Homo sapiens: one gene and its partner. The protein of the gene in region 1 purifies or fractionates together with the protein of each later gene. This does not show direct contact. Each region holds a gene or a part of one and is shown on either strand. Other genes may lie near its edges.

Region 1 (3,648 bases):
TTGTAATGGAGCTCTGTCAGACTCTGGTTTAGTAATCCATCCAGTGAGCAAGATAACATGCCTCAGGAAGCTGGGTTTTTTACCACCCCCTGCAATTAATCAACAAGAGGAAACTCATCTGACAGCATCATAATGATGTTTGGTTCATGAAGGATTTATTTAGAGAGCGAGGGGGGGAAATATCTTCTCATCTCTCAATATAATCTGAGTGAGTTCATTCAGCTGCATTTTTCTTTCTTTTTCCTCTCTTTCTTTTCCTTTTCTTCCTTTTTAATGCACCTACACAATGACGAGTGGTGACTTGTGAATGGAAGCAGCTTTCAGCAGAGAACATATTATGTAAGCAGGTTTTGGTGCCAGCCATTGATGGCGGGGCGGCATTCTGGGGCTGCAGAGAAGAGAGATGGTTTCTCGAAGTTCGTTGGGAGGCTTTTCATGCAAGGTGCTGCCAAATGGCATCTGTGTGGTCCGCTCCATTGCACATCTTCCTCCCTGCCCCCTTTCCCCTTTCCGTCTCTGCCTTCCTGTGTTTTTCCTCTGTCACTGTGGTGCTAAGCCCCTAAGTCTCTGTCTTTATCTCTCCCCCTCTCTCTCCTTTTTCCCTGCCCCTGTCTCCTTACTTTTCCCACCCCTTAAATAATTCCCTGCTTTCTCCTTGCAGTCTCTCTTTTCTCCCCATCTTTCCCTCTCTCCCTTTCTCTCTCCTCTGCCCCTGGCCTCTCTTCCTTTCCTTTTCTCTCTCTCTCTCCGTCTTCCTCCTCTCCTAACTCCTCTGCCTTCCTCATCTCATCTTTAAGACACACAGAAATTACTTGTAAAGGGAATGCATTTGTGAATTCATGAGACTCCAGGTGATGAGGGCTCCAAGTAGGGTCACCAACCATTCAGCTTTGCTTGGAGCTGAAGGGGGTCCTGGGATATAGGACTTTGTGTTAAAACTGAGAGGCAGACCAGGGATGATGGCTCGCACTTGTAAATCCCTGCACTTTGGGAAGCCAGGGCAGGAAGATCGCTTGGAGCCAGGAGTTTGAGACCAGCCTGGGCAACATGTGAGACTCCTGTCTCTATAAAAAAGTTAAACAATTAGCTGGGCATGGTGGCACACACCTGTAGTCCCAGCTACTTGGGAGGCTGAGGCAGGAGGATCACTTGAGCCCAGGAGGCTGAGGCTACTGTGAGCTGTGGTTGTGCCACTGTACTACAGCCTCGGTGACAGGGTGAGACCCTGTGTCTAAAACAAAACAAAACAACAACAAAAAAGAATGGAAAGAGTACTGGGCAAACTGTGATGAGTTGGTCATCTTACCTCCAAGCCAAATGCTTGGAATTTTGTAGAATTTTCAAAAAGCCAAAGATTCAGCTTTCTGGGTGAGTTGCCTGCCTTTCTGCTCTGGTGGCACACAGTGGTTCTGAAGCCCTCCCAGGCTTGGCATTCTCTGCATGGCTCCGGCATGGACTATCTAGACACACAAAGGCCTTTCCCTCAGAGCTCAGAGGTCAGTCATGGGCAGGAGACTTACTCCCTTCACCTTCCCTAACCCCTGTCCCTGACAAGACTGATCACCCAGCTAGTTATTCGCTCATTGGTCACCCGGGGGATATAGGGTAGAGATTGCAGATGGTTCAATGCCCAAGCTTCTCAAACTTGAGCCTGCATCAGAACCCCTTGCAGGAGTTGTTAAAACACGGAGTTTGTGATTCAGTGGGACTAGGATGGAGCCTAAGAATTTGCACATCAAACGAGTTCCCAGGCAGTGTTGATGCTGCTGGCCCAGGGACCACACTGTGAGAACCCCTGCTCTAGACTCATTCCCCCATTCCCTCCTTTCCAGACAAGTCTTGTACACTGTTCTAGGCACTGCAGACTCAGCAGTGAGGGAGCCGGAGTTCCCTGCCCCCTGAAGCCGACAGCCCAGTGGGTGGCAAAACCAATAAACAAGTAAACACATAAACAAGAAAACTCCAGACCGCGTGAAGTGCCATGAAGGAAGGAGATAGGAAGACTCGATGGAGAATGACAAGTGATGGGTTGGGGGAGGGAGGGGCGAGACTAACTTATAAAAACAGCAGCCAGTGGAGGCTGAGTTTCTAGGAGGAAATAGCCATGAGTAGATGGTGAAGGGAGGGATGAGCCACACCTGGGAAGTGGGGGCAGTAAGTGCAAAAGCAGAGACAACTGTGGTGGCCCCAAGGGACAGACAGTCGGCTGGTGTGAGTGGGGTGAGGGTCACGTGATGGGGACAAAGGGAGACAGGAACAACAGGTTCAGATCAGGACCTCCAGATCTGGTTAGACAGGACCTCCCAGGGTAGCCAAGGAGTCTGGGTTCGATTTTATTTTGCAGGGAGCGTTTTATGCTAGAGTGATGTGACCTAATTTACAATGTTAGTAATGATTGTTTTGGTCTCTGAGTGGAGAGGGGAGTGCAGGAGGTGGGATGGAAGCCAGGGGACCAGTGAGGGGAGCTGTGATGGGGCAGGGACCAGGTGGTAGCAGAGAAGAAGGTGGTGACATTTGGGGTGAATTCTGCGGGAGTGCAGACGGGCTTTACTGATGGATCAGACATAAGGGGAGAAGGCCAGAGCAATCAGGGTCCACTCCAGTGGGACTGGAACTATTCCTGGCAATGGTGCAGCAGTTGTGATCCTGGGGACATGGAGAGGGGCCTTGGCTGTAACCAAGGGCCAATGGGTTAAGAGACAAGAACCCAGCAGTGTGTGCAGAGTCAAGGCCGTTCAGGGAGCTCTGCAAATGCCCGTTCCACGCTAGCTAAAATGCACGGTTCCCCTCTCCCCGGAAGAAAAGGCAGCAGCGTGGGTTTTTTGTTTTTTTTTCTTTTCTCTCCCATGAATAGTGGCTGGATTAATCTATCAGCATGAAGCAGGATATCGTAACTTGGCAAAGGGGATGACACCCTGTGAAGTGGCAAGCTGGGGTGTCTGGCCAAGCCTTTCTCCAGGGGCTGCGGGAAAGGCTGCTGGATGTGATGGAAGACGTGAGCTTCTGGTGTCTGCAGCTTCCTCTCTGATCTGATCTGAACCTGTTGTTCCTGGAGCTAGCTAGGCCCATTCAAAAAAGAACCAGCCGGACTGGGCTTGCACCTAAGGATGAAAGCAGGAGAAGCCAGCATTTGGAGCAGGAGCTGGGCCCTTGGCGGGGAAGGAGACTCATCACACAGAGCATGCAGCAGGCTTGCCTTTCAGATAGAACCTGCCGCTGTTTCTGTAGATGTTCTTTCTTCCTTTTTCTTTTCCTTGGAAGGGTTTATCTGACTGGGCAGGCCTATGTAGCCAGCCTTGGCCAACTTCCGCAGAGGGGTCCAGGCATGTCTTCTCATCTGAACGATGGATAAGTGCTTCGAGGAAAGCTCCCGAGGGAGAAATAAATGGTGCACACTCGTGTTGGTGACCCGGAGGGGGACTGTGGTTTTAATTATAATGAGAGGGGAACTGGCCTCATTTGTAGCCTGTCTGTTATTCACGGAGGACTCTTGGGCTTTGTAGATTAGAAGAATCTTTGTTAGGGTGCGAGATGATGAGAGTTGAGTTATTTTTCCCTTCCTGGTACACAGCCATCATTGATCCTTGCCCGCCTCTTCCTCCATTTTTCATTATTTATCCTCTTTTTTCCTCATACCCCATTCCCCTC
Region 2 (3,648 bases), on another chromosome or scaffold:
TTAGGACCATAGAGCTCGATGGCAAGAGAATTAAACTGCAGATATGGTAAGAGTCATTGTTCTCTGTCATTCTCTCCACCTGGCAATGGCTTCAAGCCAGAAGCCCTTGGCCTTCTCCCTCCACCGTCCCTGTGACCTTGGCCTCCATTTCTTGGTGCCCAGTCCTGGCACATGGGGCTTTCTCCAGAAGCTCCTGGAGGTTTATACCCAGCCCAGAGAGCTGTCCTCTGCTGGCTGCAGGGCACCAGGGCCTACAGCATCATAGGCACAAAGCTGCCCAGCCCTGGCTAGCTCAGTGTTCCACAGTGGGCACCATCTGGGTCTGGCCTTCAGAGTGGGCTGCTTCTGTTGAACGGGAAGAGAGCCCTCTCAGTGCCAGGTGCTGGTGACGCCTGCAGGGACTGTGAGATGCCCCAGCCGAGAGTTTCCTTTTGAGCCTCTCAACCCACTCAGAAGCATAAAGGTCCAACTTCACTTCCTCTTTTCTCCCCTGGGGCAGGCCTGGCCTCCCTTCCTAGCGTACAGACCGAAACCCCAAACCGAAATTAAGCGGAGGGCCGGGCCCCATGTTGAGACCTGTTTCCATTCCTGAGAACTAAGGGTGACTTCCCATGCACATACAATTAGGGAAGTGGGGAGACTCCAAGTCGCCATCGCTGGCCTGATTCTAGTTTGCTGAGACTGAGTTCAGGTGGCGGGTATAGTGGGGTCCTGCCCTGCACACATGCCACTCGCACAGAGTCACTGGCCCTGAGCAAAACAAAGAGAAGTCACATTTAAGAGCATGGTGCAATTTCCCTGTCACCCAAACCAGGCAAGTGCCTTTGAGTGGGAGCAGTGTGCCAGGAGATGGGCCACGAAGTCATCCTCCCTCAAGTCTCAAAGTTTGACCGGTCACCCCCACTTGCCAGTTTCAGGGAGCCCCACAGCTACCCTTGACTCCAGGTGCTATTCACCTCTTCTTTTTTTTTCTTCTTTTTTTGAGACGGAGTTTCGCTCTTGTCGCCTAGGCTGGAGTGCAATGGCGCGATCTTGTCTCACCGCAACCTCTGCCCCCCGGGTTCAAGTGATTCTCCTGCCTCAGCCTCCCAAGTAGCTGGTATTACAGGCATGCACCACCACGCCCAACTAATTTTGTATTTTTAGTAGAGACGGGGTTTCTCCATGTTGGTCAGGCTGGTCTCCAACTCCCGACCTCAGGTGACCCACCCACCTCGGCCTCCCAAAGTGCTGGGATTATAGGCGTGAGCCACCACGCCCGGCCCTACTGTTCACCTCTTAATCTGACTTTGGGAGTCGGGTAGGTTTAACTTGCAGTTCATCCTGCAGACATTGGTAGTAAGTCAAGCTCTGGCTGCCTTGTAAGTTCCAAGCCATGGAAGTTTCTCCACTTCCAGCACGTTGGTGCCATGTCACCCTTTGTTCCCAAGTCCAAAGTGACACTGCATCAGCAAGCAGAAGTTTCACTTTCCTCCTGCCTTCCTGCTTCTGCTCTTAGCAATCGTGGTGAGGTTAGTGACTCAAAACTCTTCTAAGGACTGTAGTTGAAAAAAAAATGACTGGTTTTTTTTTTTGTTTCTTTGTTTTTTTGAGACAGAGTTTTGCTCTTGTTGCCCAGGCTGGAGTGCAGTGGCACGATTTTGGCTCACTGCAACCTCCGCCTCCTGGGTTCAGGCAATTCTTCTGCCTCGGCCTCCCAAGTAGCTGGGATTACAGGTGCCTGCCACCACGCTCGGCTAATTTTGTATTTTTAGTAGAGACGGGGTTTCGCCATGTTGGCCAGGTTGGCTTCGAACCCCTGAATTCAGGTGATCCACCCGCCTCGGCCTCCCAAAGTGCTGGAATTACAGGCGTGAGCCACCGCACCTGGCAAAAATGACTGTTTTTAACCACTCATGTCTCCTGCTGCTGGTGTCAGAAAGTCAGCTTAGCTCCAAGCAAGGTGTTTCTGCACAATCCAGACGTATAGAGCCCTCCGGGTCCCAGCAGGGCCGTGGGAGGAACCCTGGGCTTGGAGACAAAAGACCTGAGTCTTGCCCTGGCTCTGTCACCAATCAGTTAGGTCACCTTTAATTTTTTTTTTTTTTTTTTTGACAAAGTCTCACTCTGTCACCCAGGCTGGAGTGCAGTGGCATGATCTCAGCTCACTGCAACCTCCACTTCCTTGGTTCAAGCAATTCTCGTGCTTCAGCTTCCCGAGTAGCTGGGATTACAGGCACCTGCCACCATGCCTGGCTAACTTTTGTATTTTTAGTAGACAGGGTTTCACCATGTTGGTCAGGCTGATCTCAAACTCCTGACCTCAGGTGATCTGCTGGCCTCAGCCTCCCAAAGTGCTGAGATTACGGGAGTGAGCCAACACGCCTGGCTTTTTTTTTTTTTTTTCCTGAGACAGAGTCTTACTCTGTCACCCATGCTGGAATATAGCGGCACGATCTCAGGTCACTGCAACCTCCACCTCCCAGGTTCAAGCGATTGTTGTGTCTCGGCCTCCTAAGTAGCTGGGACTACAGATCCACGCCATCATGCCCGCCTAATTTTTGTATTTTTAGTAGAGATGAGGTTTCATTGTGTTGGTCAGGCCGGTCTCGAACTCCTGGCCTCAGGTGATCCACCCGCCTCGGCCTCTTAAAGTGCTGGGATTACAGATGTAAGCCACTGCACCAGGCCAGTTAGGTTACCTTTTTTTTTTTTGAGACGGAGTCTTGCTCTGTCACCCAGGCTGGAGTACAGTGGTGCAATCTCGGCTCACTGCAGCCTCCACCTCCTGGGTTCCAGCAGTTCTCCTGCCTCAGCCTCCCAGGTAGCTGGGATTACAGGCACGTGCCACCATGCCTGGCTAATTTTTGTATTTTTTGTAGGGACGGGGTTTCACCAAGTTGGCCAGGCTGGTCTCAACCTCCTGACCTCAGGTGGTCCACCTGCCTCGGCCTCCCAAAGTGCTAGGATTACAGATGTGAGCCACTGCGCCCGGCCAGTTAGGTTACCTACCTTTAAACCAAACACTAAGTACCCTTCAAGCCAGGAGCTGGACTGGGCATGGGTATGTCTTACCCAGGCATCACCTCCCGGGCAATAGGCCCTGTGTTCCTTGTCATGCAGATGAGGAGGGACTTTCCCCATCATTCAAACCAAGATGGCAGGCCTGAAAGCTTTTCCTGAGTCCCAGCCACCCTCAACAGCAAGAGCTATGTTCCTGAGCCACATGACTGGCTCTTCTGTGAACCAGAAACTCCAGGGAGAATTCCCTGGAAGCAAAGGTGCAGAAGAGGAGAAGGCGCATGGGTCAGGGATCCCATCATGGCTCTGCCACATCAAATGACCCCTCCAGGCCACAGTGTCCTTCCCTGTAATAATAGGGAGATTAGAAGGTGCTGCCTTAGCAGAAGAAGGTATCACAGTGGCTGAACGGTGAGAAAGCCAGGCATCCCGGGTAGATGCTCCTTGTCTCCTACTGAGGACAGTTATTTTCCTTTAATGTTGCTAATATCCCTTCTCTTCATGTTTAGGGACACAGCCGGTCAGGAACGGTTTCGGACGATCACAACGGCCTACTACAGGGGTGCAATGGTAGGGACTTTTTGTTTGGTTGTTTTTATCTGCTTTTTAAGTCAACATGGGAGCGTCACTGTGCATTGGTTACCGAAG

The links. The genes of interacting proteins can lie anywhere in the genome.
Region 2: the proteins of RPH3A (region 1) and RAB8A purify together in Homo sapiens (affinity purification with mass spectrometry; 2 studies listed by BioGRID and IntAct, with this or other methods). This does not show direct contact.

Annotation. Positions count from the first base shown.
Region 1 is NC_000012.12:112,798,156-112,801,803, forward strand, and holds part of RPH3A (rabphilin-3A), read left to right. Parts: intron 1-3,648. UniProt on the Homo sapiens protein: Plays an essential role in docking and fusion steps of regulated exocytosis.
Region 2 is NC_000019.10:16,118,241-16,121,888, forward strand, and holds part of RAB8A (ras-related protein Rab-8A), read left to right. Parts: coding exon 1-46; intron 47-3,509; coding exon 3,510-3,570; intron 3,571-3,598; exon of another isoform or gene 3,599-3,648. UniProt on the Homo sapiens protein: The small GTPases Rab are key regulators of intracellular membrane trafficking, from the formation of transport vesicles to their fusion with membranes.